Linked DNA regions of Homo sapiens: region 2 is linked to region 1. Evidence: fine-mapped expression QTL. Tissue or cell type: testis. Region 1 holds a variant in brackets; the other region holds the start of a gene. All regions are shown on one strand. Distances are from middle to middle.

What was found. PIP is the estimated chance that this variant, and not a neighbour inherited with it, causes the effect. A credible set is the group of variants that fine-mapping cannot tell apart.
Region 2: IFT88 starts here. The variant in region 1 is the best candidate, but not a certain one, in a credible set for the expression of IFT88 in testis (GTEx, PIP 0.82).

The regions. Positions count from the first base shown.
Region 1 is chr13:20,683,138-20,693,948 of GRCh38, reverse strand. It overlaps IFT88 (intraflagellar transport 88), which reads right to left. Exons shown (of 26, transcript NM_006531.5): 25 at 3,134-3,244; 26 at 2,505-2,895. The coding sequence ends at 2,774. Among named protein-coding and RNA genes, the nearest start is that of IL17D, 15 kb to the left of the region's middle. The variant GTA/A (reference allele first, on the strand shown) is at 6,540.
Region 2 is chr13:20,565,135-20,570,134 of GRCh38, reverse strand. IFT88 (intraflagellar transport 88) reads right to left here and starts at 2,978. Exons shown (of 26, transcript NM_006531.5): 1 at 2,879-2,978. It overlaps LOC105370103 (a long non-coding RNA gene), which reads left to right and starts at 3,106. Exons shown (of 6, transcript XR_941725.3): 1 at 3,106-3,459; 2 at 4,585-4,634. RefSeq lists silencers at 2,585-2,773, 2,869-3,278.

The DNA of each region.
Region 1 (10,811 bases):
AAATATAAATATTAGCCAGGCATGGTGGCAGGTACCTGTAATCCCAGCTACTTGGGAGGCTGAGGCAGAGAATTGCTTGAACCCAGAGAATTGGGAGGCAGAGGTTGCAGTGAGCCGAGATCACGCCACTGCACTCCAGCCTGGGCGACAGAGGTTGCAGTGAGCCGAGATTGTGCCACTGCACTCCAGCCTGGGCGACAGAGCAAGACTCTGTCTCAAAAAAAAAAAAAAAAAAAAAAGGCTCTTTCCTCTCTGCAATTTTTAGTTTTATTGATTCCACAGATCTCCAGAGACTTTGAAGACATGATTTTTGCAATGATTTGTTTTTTTTTCCCAGCTGCTACGGAGGGCTTCCATGACCTACTGCATCCTTCTCAGAACTGGAAGTTTGAATCCTGAAACCTCCTACATCACTTGTTGCTCTTCTCAGTCTCTTCTGCTGAGCCATCCTTTTTCTCTGGTACTCACAAGCACATTGCTTATACTTCTTCTCTAGCCTCACTCTCAGACCTAATTGATCTCATTCAGTTTCATGGTTTTAAGTACGAAGTGTACATAGATGGATCCCACATCTCTACCTGTAGCCCTCACTTCTGTGACCTCCAGATTTTAAAGATTAACTGCATTCTTCGCATCTCAAATTGAATGCTTGAGACAAATTTAACATGGGTAAAACACATCTACTTATTCCCCCCCAAATCTATCTTACTAAAAAGACAACACTAGCCACTCCGTTCCTTAGCCACAAATTTTGGCATCATCTTTTCCTCTCTTTCCCTCACAATCCACATCCAATCCATTAGTAAGTCTCAGCTCTGCCTCCAAATATATGCTGAATCTGACCACTTCTCACAATTTTCTATTGCTAAAAACCTGTCTCAATTGCTTTCATCTCTTACCCAGGCTACTGCTAGTAGTTTCCACTCTTCCCTTCCATCCCACTTGCCCACTTCATCTTCATGGCGACCAGTGTGATGACTGGTTTCTAAAGGTTAAATGAAAGCACTTCACTCACCCCCCTTGCATGAAACCTTCTAGCAGGTGTTCTATAGTAACTAGAATAAGATCCAAACTGTCTTTATAAGGCTGTACATGCTCTGAACCCTGCCTACCTTTTGGATCTCATCTCCTTTCCCTTTCCTGCCCATGTAGCACACCACCCACACTGCTGGATCCCAAACCCTCTCACTATCACTGTAGCTCAATAACCCTGTGACACATCCAGATCATTCATTTTTCAGTGTGCGGCACTTGCTGCTCCTTCTGCTCAGAACACTGCTTTCTTCTCACCATTCTAGTGTTATTACCAAGGCCACCTCTTAGAGTCCCTCCTCTATAATCACTACCTATTGCATTACTCCATTTTGTTCTCTTAACTGTAATTAACAATATCTAGAGTCCTTTAAAAACATATTTTCTGGCCAGGCACGCTGGCTCATGCCTGTAATCCCAGCTCTGGGAGGCCAAGGTGGGTGGATCATGAGGTCAAGAATTCGAGACCAGCCTGGCCAACATGGTGAAACCCCGTCTGACTAAAAATACAAAAATTAGCCAGGTGTGGTGGTGCGTGCCTGTAATCCCAGCAACTCAGGAGGCTGAGGCAGGAGCATTGCTTGAAACCAGGAGGTGGACGTTACAGTGAGCCAACATTGCACCACTGCACTCCAGCCTGGGCGACAGAGTGAGATTCCATCTCAAAAAAAACCCAAACAAACAAACAAAATATATTTTCCATCTCCCCACCAGAATTTAAGCTTCTTGAGGGCAAGGTATAGTTCTTTTTCACTACTGTATCCCCCAAATTTTAATGAATTCTCTGCACATACTGGATGTTTACTGTATTTGTTGGCTGTCTCATCAATTAGAGCATAACCTACTTTGGGAGCAAGGAATGTGGTCTAGTTTTGGTTTTCCTCCCTCGCATCTAACAGTAGCATGCACGTTGCAGAGACAATGGTAAGTAAGATTGAGGGGTCCATTCTCTTTGGTATAGTGTTAGAGATAAGCCACTGCTTCTGACATCCTCGTCATTATAATTCCTCTGGAGACTCTAGACCAGCCAAACACATTGTTAAAGAAAAATGCAGGCAGTCCTGCCCCCAACCCACTAAGTCACAAATGGGAAAAGCCATCTTAGAGTTGTTACTGCTCTGTGCTATTGGTGCACACCCCCGGGCTGAAGTAGAAAGGAACTTCGGAAAGGAGCACTAGGGTTATGGTTTGGTATTTAATCCCATTACCCTTTATACTGCTTCCAAAACATAATTGTTTTAATAGTGTTTCTAATCCCCACAAGGCAAATCTTCCAAAGAATTTCCAAACTCCAAGCAATTTAAGTATGAATAGAAATTGTGCCTATGTCCACACAGCATTTTTCAATCTGCAAGCCATGAAATCAATGTAGTGGCTTCACTACTAGCACTTTGTTTGAATGAAACTATAGAAAATATTAGCATGTATTGCAATAATAAGGGTAAATTTTTATGACTACATACACATATATGTACTAGGTTGTGTTATGAAATTTATTTCTTCCTGTGTGTCAATGTTTTCAAAAAGCTAAGGAAGTCACTGGCCTAAAGTATTAGTTTTACCTGTTTTTATTCCTTAAAAGAAAAAAACAACTTAAATGCATACATACAGAATAGAATACACTTACTTAAGTTTTGACAGTGAAAAAAAATAATTACAGGTTAGATATTTAATCCAAGGTTTAACATGAGGATGATCTCATAAGGCAATTTCTTTCCTTTAATAAATATTAAAGTGAATATTATTCTGGAAGCAAATCATCTCCTAATTCTTCATCAGCAAAATCATCCTCATCGATCCTTTTCTTGGCTGCAGTTTTTGGTCGTTCTATTTGAGGGCCAAGTGGGTCCACATAGGAGGCATCTAGGTTTCGAAGAGATTGTCACGTTAGAGTTATGTAAACAAACAAAACAAATGTGAAACCAATCAGGCTCATAGTCAAAATGAATAACTCAGAGTGAACAGAAATGGTCTCCCAAGTCATTTTAAATTTTATCTGTAAATATCAAATTCTTAAGAATTCCCAGCAACACCTTTTGGCCATCTCACCATTCTTCTTCAGACCTGCTATGCCTGGAGGAACTGGGTGGAGAGTACTTGCCTATTTCTTTGTTACTGCTACTTTCATAAGGTTCATTTGTCCCAGGTAAAGCTCTGAGTCTGGCACTTAGTCGTTCACCTTTACTACTGGCACTATAGTTCTGGCCACTATCTGAAAACACGAAAATAAAAATGCATTTGTTTAATATGTTGAGAAAACATAAAACTACATTATGCATCTTAAAGCATACTTATTTGCCAAGAAACAAGCAGGTTGTTTAATTTGGAAGCCAGCTTCTTAGGGATATAATTCTTGTTTTCTGAAATTTAAAAGAAATATCTTGTGGGAATCTATAATATAGATAAAACATCACTTAAGAGTAGTCTGTATATGTATTCTTTCAAATGTGTGCTTACTTATAGGTTTCAATTTTATGGAAGAACTTAAGAGAAAGTAAGAGATCACCCTGACTCTTATAATTGCCCAAATAGGCAATGGCTGCCTTAGGAAAAAATGTAATATGTATCACTGAGGATTTTCAGATAAAACTGAACACTAACATTAGTAGGAAATGTTAGTAGTACTTTTTAACCAGAAATTTCTGTGATATTTTCTAAAAGTACTCCTCTAGCCCCACAGTTTTCCTTTCTTCCCCTTAGAATTCCTAGAGTGATATTTTTTCTATTATGTAAGCCTCACTTTTAATGAGAGTAGTCCACTGATAAACACACTGACCATTTCGTTTTTGAATATAGTTTGTCTTTTAGTTTACTGATAATGTCTCTGGGAATAAATCAGAACAAGATGGTCTTTAAAATCCCCACATTTTAAGATTGGCCAACTGACCCAAAATAGTAAGTCTTCTCTAAGGTTCTTATCCAAAACCTTACCATTTCCCCTACCACTGATGTTACGGGAAAATAAAGCTCTTTAGTGTACTGAATATGTCTACACACTTTAGTATATTTTACATTATTTTGTCCCTCTCTTTTTGTTAAAACAAAAGTTAATTTTTTCCATGCAGAAATGTATACGGGTGTCTTTTAAACTGCCTGAGTGAGCTCAAGTCAATAAAGTTTGAAAAACATTGCTCTAGGGATATTTCTTTTACTTTTTTTTTTCTGAATAATGTATATCCTACCTGTCTCCAAAAAGGTTTAAGATAAGCCACCAAATATATACACAATAACTATATAGCAATCTTTTAAAAGATGAATGAGTATGTGAGAAGAAAAGTTTGGGTGAGAAACATAAAACAAAGTTGGCAGGGAGTGGTCCAAACAGGCCTTCTTGCCTTAGGGTTTGCAGTCAACGAAGGGCAAGGGCATACACAGTTCTTTGACTCATGGGTACATAAGATATGACAACCAATGTCTCCACAAAAATGTAGGTGTTCTCATTACAGAGATAAGATGGAAATGCCTCACAGAACTGCTCACTGAGGAATACTGTGGAATGTCAGAAACACATCCTCATTAGTAAATACGACAACGTTATTTCACTTTTTACACAGATGTAAATTACCAACAAAACCCTGATAGCTCCCTCAGGCACCCAAAACCCTTCTGAAATCCAAATCCAAATTCCTAGCCTGAAAGATTCAAATTTTGTGGAAAAAGCAAACCTTTAAAAAATAAAACCTGGGGCCGGGCACGGTGACTCACGCCTGTAATCCCAGCACTTTGGGAGGCCAAGGCAGGCAGATCACGAGGTCAGGAGCTCGGGGCCAGACTGAGCAACATGGTGAAACCCCGTCTCTACTAAAAATACAAAAATTAGCCGGGCGTGGTGGTGCACACCTGTAATCCCAGCTACTCAGGAGGCTGAGGCAGAAGAATTGCTTGAGCCTGGGAGGCAGAGGCTACAGTGAGCCAGATCGTGCCACTGCATTCCAGCCTGGGCTACAGGGTGAGATTCTGTCTCAATAAATAAATAAATTAATTAATTAAATAAAAATAAAGTGCTTATATAAAAAATAAAACTTGGCTGGGCAGAGTGGCATGCACCTATTATCCCAGCTGCTTGTGGGGATGAGATGGGAGGATCACTTGAGCCCTGAAGTCCAATGCTGCAATGAGCTATGACAGCACCACTGCACTCAGCCTGGGTGATACAGCAAGACCCCATCTCTAATATAAATAAATAATAATTACAATATTTGTAGTCTTTGAAGATTGGACTCTATAGTTTCTGTTGTTGCTTACTCTTAGTGACTTATTTCCTCATGCATGCATACTTTTTCTTAACTGTAGGTTCTTATTCTTTGGAACTTAAAAGTGCATTCCTCCAAGGAGGATTTAAGTTTATTTCTTGTAGGCACCTTGTAGCCTCACCAACTGAAGTCCACTTTAAATCAAATTTTCAGCTTGGTGTTCTTCAGAACACACAGATATAATATGTATTCTAGCTCCAAAACTATGTGAGTGAAGGCTTACTTATGGTTAGGAATTATCAAAAGAGCTCTTCTTGTTTTCTACATTAGAACCAAGGTGAAAATCCATCATCTGTAGGGTGGCCTCTTTTCTTTTGAGATGGAGTTTCGCTCTTGTTGCCCAAGCTGGAGTGCGATGGTGTGATCTTGTCTCACTGCAACCTCCACCTCCCGGGTTCAATCGATTCTTCTGCCTCAGCCTCTCGAGTAGCTGGGATTACAGGCATGCGCTACCACGCCCGGCTAATTTTTTTGTTGTTGTTGTATTTTTAGTAGAGACGGGGTTTCACCTTGTTTGCCAGGCTGGTCTCAAACTCCTGACCTCAGGTGATGCGCCTGCCTCGGCCTCCCAAAGTGCTGGGATTACAGGCTTCAGCCACCGTGCCCGGCCAGAGTGGCCTCTTTCCGACTTGGCCTACTCAGAGTATTGCCAGTGAGAAGTCCTAGCTTTGTGACAGGGATTCTTTGATCCGACCTCTGCTCTGGCCTTTTTGAGGCCCCAGGCCTTATCTCTTGGTCCCCATGAGTGTCTATAATCTGAGGTTCTCAATCATGAGGGATTAGCTAGGCAATGCCAGCTCCTGCACATTGGATTTAAACTTTCTAGATCTTTTTGGCCTCCAAAGAATTTCCTTCTTTGCTACCAACTCAGCCGTGCATTTTTGAAGTTTTTTTCATTTTATTTTTTCCTCCCCCTTCTTCTTTTCTTTTTTTTCTTTTTTTAACACGCAACATATCATTTTTAGGAGAGCTATACTTGGAGTTTTCCTGAATATTTAGACTATCTTACCGTCAGACATAGATATTTGTAATAATTTTATAGCCAGTAGAAATATACAAAAATGTCATTTAAAAGGCTAAGTCTAACCCCTTTATTTTTCAGATGAGAAAACAGGCTTAGGATAGTGAAGTGAAGTGACTTGTTCAAGAGTGCATAGTTGGTGACAAGATCAGCACCAAAACCCAGCCTTCCTGACTGCCAGCCTGGTCCTTGCCTGTTAGACAAATAGTGCCTCTTTAGCAAAGGATCTGTGT[GTA/A]AAGTGTGGCACCTGGGCCTTATTCATATTCAGATTCCAAGCATATGCTATTCCAAGCTCAGCAGTTTGGCTCGCCCCACAAAATGTGGCTGTCTTAATAATGACAGTTAAGCATTTAAAGGAAACTCACAATCTCTAATCTCTTTTCACTACCCTGTATTTTAGACCCTTCTGCTGGCCCCAGAACAACCTGACCCCCTCCTTGCCTTATTAAGCAAGTCTGCAAAAAAAATCTTAACACATTTCTAGTTGGTGGCCGACTACATCCCGACTTGACCAATGTTTTTACAAGGCAATGCATACTAAGAAGATGACCTATTTGTAACATTTTAGAGTGACGTAGTTTTTAAATATGAGGTTTTTTTTTTTTTTTTTTTTTTTTTTTGGTAAGAAAGTGACTTTTAAGCTGGGTGTGGTGGCCTGAGCCTGTAATCTCAGCTACTCAGGAAGCTGAGGCAGGAGGAGAATTTGAGGCCAGGAGTTCAAGAAAGTGAGTCTTATAAAAGGCTCTATTCACAGAATAAATTAAGTAAGGTTAAGGGGCTAACTACATAAACTTTGGTGAAAATTTCTCTCCAAATAAAAATGAATTGTTTCCAAGGAAAGACAGTCTTTACTAATTTAGAAAGAATATGGTTATGAGCATAAAAATAATTTATAGCAGTAATAAACTTAAGATAGAAAAAATAACTGTACAGGGAAGATGAAAAGCAATGTCCTTCATTTTTGCTAATTTTCTAAACAGGTTGCGGCAGAGATTTTTATCATATTTAAATACAATGATTTTGTGAAACTGAGTACATAATACATTTATATAAGTAATGAAAATAAGAAAAAATGTATCAATTTCTTTATCTTTAACACCACCGATGCTATTTTAAATTCTGATGAGTGTTAACTGTGCTCCTGCTCAGTACCTTATGCTGTTCACACCCAGCAGAGGCAAAAGGAGATGCAGCCACTGCCTTCAGGAACTTTACAATCTGTGGGTGACTTTTACCTTAAGCATTCACTATAAATAATTTCCATGATGTCATACCTATAACACATTTTAAAGATCCAATAAAAGTACTTGCCTTTCCTGCATTTTTATTTTACTGATTTCTGTATGAACATTATTTTGCTTAGAGAAAAGTAAAAAGGAAACTACATTGTGTGATGATTATTATTCACTGCACTCCAGCTGCAAATAAGATTGTCTCTAGAAGTTATATCATCTCTCAAAGCTGTTAAGTGATCCAAGTCTATGGAGCTCCCAATGGCAACAGCATCCCCCTTAAAGATCAGCCAAGGAAGCTCGATGTGGGATCTCACCACAGTGGGGAAGAAGGGGCCTGTAATAACTGCTCCAGGGTGACACAACTGTGAAGAACATAATTCAACTTGGAATTATTTCCAGTTGAACATTTGGTTTATTCCCAATGTTTCTACCATAAATAATGTGATCAATATGTGTGTACAAAATTATTTCTTTAAAGTAAGTTCCTATCAAAGGTTATGGGCATTTTAATTAATTTATTTATTTTTTGAGATGGAGTCTTGTTTTGTCTCCCAGGCTAGAGCGCAGTGGCGCAATCTCGGCTCACTGCAACCTCTGCCTCCCGGGTTCAAACAATTCTCCTGCTTCAGTCTCCTGAGTAGCTGGAACTACAAGTGTGTGCCACCATGCCCGGTTAATTTCTGTATTTTTAGTAGAGTCAGGGTCTCACCATGTTGGCTAGGCTGGTCTCGAACTCTTGACCTTAAGTGATCCAAGTGATCTGCCTGCCTTGGCCTCCCAAAGTGCTGGGATTACAGGCGTGAGCCACCATGCCCGGCTGGGTACGGGCATTTTAAAGGGCTTGATGAATATTTCCAAACATTCCCAGCAGGGTGTGCCACTTAGAACTCCCCCCAGCAGAATTTAGTTAATAAACAGTGCTCATCTCATCTCATCCTTGCTACCCTTGGGAATTACCTTTTAAAAAATTCATTGCTAATTTTATAGGTTAGTTTGTGCTGGTAGCAAGCCCTAAGCCTGTCATAAACAGGCCTTAAAGAAACTGGCCATAAAAAGGATTTCTGCAGCAATGTGGCATGCTCGTGATGGCTATCACACACACTGCTAGAAGTCGTTGGTTTACTGGAGCAGGGCAAGGAAAACCTGGCCCCCCCACCCCCGGGAGCGGAAAACTGCTCTAGCCATAAACAATAGCAGGAGCAGCCTGTGTCTTAACAACGTGTTTTTGCTGCAGATAATCAGCCAGGGCCTGTTTCTCTGCTCCTCGCTAAAATTGCTTTGTTTCCCATAAGGAATGCTTCTAGCTAATCTATAATCTATAGAAGCAATGCTTAGCACTGGCTTACTGTCAATAATATGTGGGTCAGATTCCGTTTGTGGCTCTCAGCTCTGACGGCTGTCAGCCCCCTGATCCCACTCTGCACTCTATTTCTGTGTCTGTGTCTTTAATTCCTCTAGTGCTGCTGGGTTAGGGTCTCCACGACCGAGCTGGTCTCGGCAAGCGGTGCCCAACATGGGGGCTTGAACCCGGGTCGAAGGGTCGCCCCGAAGCGACAGTTGGAGAACGTGGAACTACGCTGGGGAACACCCGAGTACTCTTAAGCAATCCCTGTGGTGAGTAAGAAGGGGAGCTCGGAAGCATCAGGGTAACAATGGGACAAGGGTCGAGCAGGCACGAGGCTTGAGTCTGCTTCGGCATCTCCTCAGAAAAGGAGTGAAGGTTAGCACCAGCTGACTTATGCAACTTTTTAGTGTGGTAGAGAAATACTGCCCCTGGTTTCAGGACCGAGGAACTATGAATGTAGAGGTCTGGGAAAAGGTAGGCAGCACACTGAAAAAGGCATACAACGATGGTGCTGAGGATATTCCTGTAACTCTCTGGTCAGTGTGGATTGTGGTTTGTTCCACCTTGGAGCCTTTCTATATAGATGACAAGGAGGAGGAATCAGAGGAAGAAGGAGAGTGTAACGAAGTAACTAACAGAAGAGATGACAGAGCAGGTTTGCTTGCCAGCTAAAGAGACAAAGGAGGGAGAGGTTTGTCCCTACCCCTCTATACCCCCTCATTATTTTGAAGAAAAAGAGTGGCCTGACTCTCCAAATCTCTCTTTTCCAGAGGACACTGGGCAAAAAGTAGCTGCCCCAGTGACTGTTCCAGCAGTGCCTCGAGCGACCGCTCTCAGTTCCATTTAGGCAGGAATCCAGCAAGCTAGATGAGAAGGTGATATGGATGCTTGGCAGTTCTCTGTTAGAATATACTCACCTGATCAACAGGGGAATATTATGGCTACATTTGAGCCTTTTCCTTTTAAATTCCTCAAAGAATTTAAACCAGCTATTAATCAATATGGACCAGGTTCTCCTTTTGTAATGAGACTGTTAAAGAATGTTGCTGTCTCCAGTCAGATGATGCCAGTGGGGACGGTAGGATTACTTCTAGGTAGGTCTAGTTTAAATTTAAAAGGAGTGCAAGTACATACAGGAGTCACTGATTCAGATTACAATGGGGAAATTCAAATTGTTATATCTACTTCTGTTCCCTGGAAAGCAGAGCCAGGAGAGCGTATAGCACAGCTCCTGACTGTGCTGTATGTGGGAATGGGAAAAAGTGAAATTAATCAAACAGGAGGATTTGGAAGCACAAATAAACAAGGCAAAGCAGCTTATTGGGTGAATCAAATTACTGATAAATGTCCTACCTGTGAAATAACCATTCAAGGAAAAAAATGAATGAAAGGATTGGTAGATACAGGAGCGGACATTTCCATCATTTCTCTACAGCACTGGCCATCCGCATGGCCAATTCAACCCACTCAATTTAACAGAGTTGGAGTTGGTAAAACCCCTGAAGTATATCAAAGCAGTTATATTTTGCATTGTGAAGGACTCGATGGACAACCTGGGACTATCCAGTCAATTATAACTTCTGTACCTATAAATTTATAGGGGAGAGATTTATTACAGCAATGGGGAGCACAAGTTCTAATTCCTGAGCAACTATATAGCCCTCAAAGTCAGCATATGATACAAGAGATGGGGTACGTGCCTGGCATGGGATTAGGAAAAAATTTACAAGGGTTAAAGAAACTGCTTCAAGCGGAAGGACAGAATTCTCATCAGGGTTTAGATCATTTTTGATGGCGGTCATTGTTAAGCCTCCAGAACCTATACCTTTAAAATGGTTAACAGGTAAGCCAATTTGGATAGAGCAGTGGCCGCTGAGTAAAGAGAAACTGGAGGCTTTAGAGGACTTAGTTACTGAACAATTAGA
Region 2 (5,000 bases), 120 kb after region 1:
ATGATGTTGAGTATCTTTTCATCTGCTTATTATCCATTTCTATATCTCTTTGGAGAAATGTCTGTTCAGATCTTTTGCTCATTTTTTTTTTTTTTTGAGACGGAATCTTGCTCTGTCGCCTAGGCTAGAGGGCAGTGGCGCGGCTCACTGCAAGCTCCGCCTCCCAGTTTCACGCCATTCTCCTGCCTCAGCCTCTCGAGTAGCTGGGACTACAGGCACCCGCCACCAAGCCCGGCTAATTTTTTTATTTTTATTTTTATTTTTATTTTTAGTAGAGATGGGGTTTCACCGTATTAGCCGGTATGGTCTCGATCTCCTGACCTTGTGATCCGCCCACCTCGGCCTCCCAGAGTGCTGGGATTACAGGCGTGAACCACCGCGCCCGGCCAGCTCATTCCCAAAAATCAGGTTATCACATGAATTATAAGGATCCTGTATATATTCCTGATACTAAACATTATATAAATGATTTACAAATACTTTCTCCCATTCTGTACATCATTTTACATTCTTTGTACTATCCTCTGAAGCACAAAAGTTTAAAAAAATTTTTTTTTTTTTTGGGACGGAGTCTCGCTCTGTCACCCAGGCTGGAGTGCAGTGGCGCGATCTCGGCTCACTGAAAGCTCCGCCTCCCGAGTTCACGCCATTCTCCTGCCTCAGCCTCTCCAGCAGCTGGGACTACAGGCGCCCGCCACCACGCCCGGCTAATTTTTTGTATTTTTAGTAGAGACGGGGTTTCACCGTGTTAGCCAGGATGGTCTCGATCTCCTGACCTCGTGATCCGCCCGGCTCGGCCTCCCAAAGTGCTGGGATTACAGGCGTGAGCCACCACGCCTGGCCAAAAGTTTTAAATTTTGATGATATACAATTTATTTTTCCTTTGGTTGCACGTACTTTTGGTATCATATCTAAGAAAGAACTGCCTAATCTAAGGTCAAGAATATTTATACCTATGCTTTTTTTCTAACAGTTTTAGCTCTTATATTTAGGTCATTGATCCATTTTGAGTTAATTTCTCATTACTTTTTGAAGATGAAAATTAACTACTATGAGGGCAAATGTCACCCACATAGAAATGGCATTCCAAAATAGCTTCAAAAGGTTATTAAAAGGGCCAGGCGTCGTGGCTCACGCTTGTAATCCCAACACTCTGGGAGGCCGAGGCGGGCGGATCACGAGGTCAGGAGATCGAGACCATCCTGGCTAACACGGTGAAACCCCGTCTCTACTAAAAATACAAAAAATTAGCTGGGCATGGTGGCGGGCGCCTGTAGTCCCAGCTACTCGGGAGGCTGAGGCAGGAGAATGGCATGAACCCGGGAGGCGGAGCTTGCAGTAAACCGAGATTGCCGCCACTGCACTCCAGCCTGGGCAACAGAGCGTGCGACTCCGTCTCAAAAAGAAAAAAAAAGGTATTAAAAGTCACTGGTAAAAGATATATAAAATATTTTTAATTAAAAGCTTTAGCTCAGATAATACTAAACCAGTGGTTCTTAAACCCAAGTGATGCTGAGGCTACTGGTCTGGGGACCACTTTGAGAACCACTATTCTGAACCATAATTTCTGATTATGAACCCTATTTAAGTCAGCTTAGTTGACACATAAGTTATAGAAGGAAGCAACTTTTAGAATGAGAAATCCTTTCTGCTAGGTTGTAACCAGATTTTTAAAAGGTTTGACTTGAGACTTTAGTTGAATAGACATCTTGTGGAACATACAAATATTAAAAGATGTGGAAAGTGAGGCCAGGAAAGTTGAAGGGAATCAAGCATGGCTAATAGCTATGGGTGGCAGAACAACTGTTGTTATACAACCCAGGGTTTCTGGATTCTCCAGGCAATTTCCAAAGCAGCTTATACATGTAACAAACTTTTCCATGTTGAAATAATCTGGGGATGATGCCACCTATGTTTAATATAAATCAAATGCTGGCAAAACCTTTTTTTTTTTTAAGTGAAAGGTATGTTTTTTAATACTCTTCTACTGACTATGGACAGTCTACTTCAAGCTTTTCCAACCCCGGCCCGCACGTGGCACAGGACGGCTTTGAATGTGGCCCAACACAAATTCGTAAACTTTCTGGAAGCATTATGAGATTCTTTTTTGCGATTTTTTTTAAAGCTCATCGGCTACCTTAGTGTTTGTGAATTTCATGTGTGGCCCAAGACAATTCTTCTTCCGATGTGGCCCAGGGAAGCCAAAGATTGGACACCCTTGGTCTACTTCCAAGAAGCCTACTGCAGTTTCTCGAAAAAAAAAAAACAAACAAAAAAAACTCACAACCAGAAAATCGGACTAGTAAAAGTGTAATTTTAGGCTTAGAAAGAATCTTGGGACAACAGTACTTCACGTTTTTGGAATGTTTCCATCTTTGTGAGGCTAAGTACCGCTTTCTGCATTGTTGTGTACTTTTATCTTCATTCCTGATTCAACTTTCATCAGGCAATTTGAAGTGCTTCACCTAACAAGAAAATTAAAGAGCGATGTGCACCATCTCTGCTGTGCGATTCCAGAGCTGGCGCAGTAATCTAACTGGGTTTTAAGTTTCCCCGTCAGGCGTGACTGGGACTTGGGACATCGCCAAGCGGTCAGCGACGCCCGTCCCAGTTCAGAGGAGCAAGAAAAGCCTGTGAGCTGGGGACACCGATGTGAGAAACAACGCCCGCGTTTCTGAGTAGACAACTCGGGAGCCTGAGGAAGAAAAGCAGGGGCAGGCCGAGTCCATCTGGGGCCCCGCCTCAGACCGCCCCGGGGCCGACAGGGGCGGGCAGGAGACGGGCGAAGAGGCCCTCGGCGGGATGCGCCACACAGGACGCCGCAGGGGCACGGCTGCCAGGGGCCCTGAGGCACTAGGCCCCAGCGCCCTTCTCCTACCTCACGCTGAGGGAAGCGGGCGACAGTTATTCGGGCCCAGGGACGACGCAGCGGTTGGCCAAAGCGCGACGCCGAGCCGTTGCCAAGCGCGGAATCCAAGGAAGCCGCTCCCACAGTCCTCCGCGCGGGGGCGGGCGGGGCCGGAAGCGCGGGGGCGGGAGAGAGCGCGGCGGGAAGGGGGTGGTGCGGGAGGCCTGGGGAAGTGGGTGGGGGCGGAGAACGGCGGGTCAGAGAGAAGGCAGCCCGGTCCCCCTCAGTGGAAGGGAGTGGCGGTGGGCGGAGGGTGTTGAGGGGACGGTGCCAGCGGCTTGCGGGAAGCCGGGCGATGCGGGTAGAACGGTGGAGGAGAGGGCAGGGAGGCCGGGGCCTCCCGTGGAACGGAACCGGGGGGTTGGGAGGCTGGGGGCGGCCTGTGTGAAGGGGGCGGGGAGGGAAAGGCTCGCGGCCAGTAGATGCAGGAGGGAGGAGGGCCTAGAGGGGCTCCGGGCTGGCGGCCTCTGTGAGGAAGGGGAAGGATATGGAACCAAGATCCTTTAAATCCTGATGAACTCATCCGTAAAGCAGATGCCCAAAGGATGATAGTAAGCTTACTGTGACATAACTCCCGGAGCCGCAGCACGAGCCTTGTGAACCTTGGAAGCCCGTTTTCCGCGCAGTCACTAACTCGCTTAGTCACCCTGTGTAAAAGTTATTCTGGGATGACACCTGCCTGGGAAGTCTCACCTTTCCCCCCACCTCCTCCTGTCTGCGTATTGTTCTGTAGCACCCCGTGCGCACCTTGATTGTAGCGCTTAAGGTGTCCGTTTTATTTACTAGACAGGGATTGAACCATTGTGTCCCAACCACCTAGAACCTGGGTCATAGTGTAAAGCTTAATCAATGTAATATAAATGGGGGAATTAAATTCATAATTGTTTAATGTTTAAGTTTTGTCTTAAATTTTAAAAGTAAATGTTGGGGATGGAGGGGAGGGACAGAGGGAGTCTAAAGACACCAGTAATTAATGAGTTTTTATAAAATAAGTAGTGTTGGCCGGGCGCAGTGGCTCATGCCTATAATCCCAGCACTTTGGGAGGCTGAGGCTGGCGGATCACCTGAGGTGAGGAGTTGGAGACCAGCCTGGCCAACGTGGTGAAACCCTGTCTCTACTAAAAATACAAAAATTAGCCCGGCGAGGTGGCAGGCGCCTGTAATAAATCCCAGCTACTCAGGAGGCTAAGGCAGGAGAATCTCTTGAACCCAGGAGGTAGAGGTTGCAGTGAGCCAAGATGGTGGTATTGCACTCCAGCCTGGGTGACAAGAGCGAAACTCCATCCAAAAAAAGAAAAAACATAGTGTTGGGGGACAATTCTCCATGGGTCACCTGCACTTTCCCGTGTTTTGTGAGCAGAGACACTGACTGCCTTTGTTCTGGAGTACTATGATAGCTGGTATTTTTTAAGATGTGATTAACAGTTAAATTAGACTTGAGTAAAGCAGTTGGTCCTCCACAAGGTGGGTTGGCCTCATCCCGTCAAGGGAAGGTCATAAGAGAAAAGACTAAGGTCCTCTGAGGAAGAAGGAATCCTGCCCCCAGACTGCCTTCAGCTCTTTCCTGGGTCTCTAACTTGACCTACAAATTTTAGGCTTGCCAGCATTATAAATAAAGTTTTGGTGCCGCAAAAGAAATAGCACTCAACTATAAAATTTTCTTTTTTCCTTCTCAGCAAGGCAATTTACTTCTATAGAAGGGTGCGCCCTCACAGATGGAGCAATGGTGAGCACACACCTGGACAAGGGAGGCGAAGGGGTTTTTATTCCTGACGCTTGTGGCACCTGCTGCTGTGTCCTTCCCCTGTTGGCTAAGGTTAGACGGCACAGGCTAAACTAATTCTGATTGACTAATTTAAAGAGAGTGACCGGGTAAGTGGTTTGGTGGGAAAAATAGTTATGGCAGAGCAGGAAATCGGAATGAGTCAGGGTGGAGAATGAGTCAGGGCAGAGCAGGTAATCAGAATGAGTCAGGGTGGAGCAGGTAGTTGAAAAAGATTGCTTTACGAGGAAGTTAAGCTTTTTTTGTTTTGTTTTGTTTTTTTTAATTGAGACAGAGTCTCGCTCTATAGCCTAGACTGGAGTGCAGTGG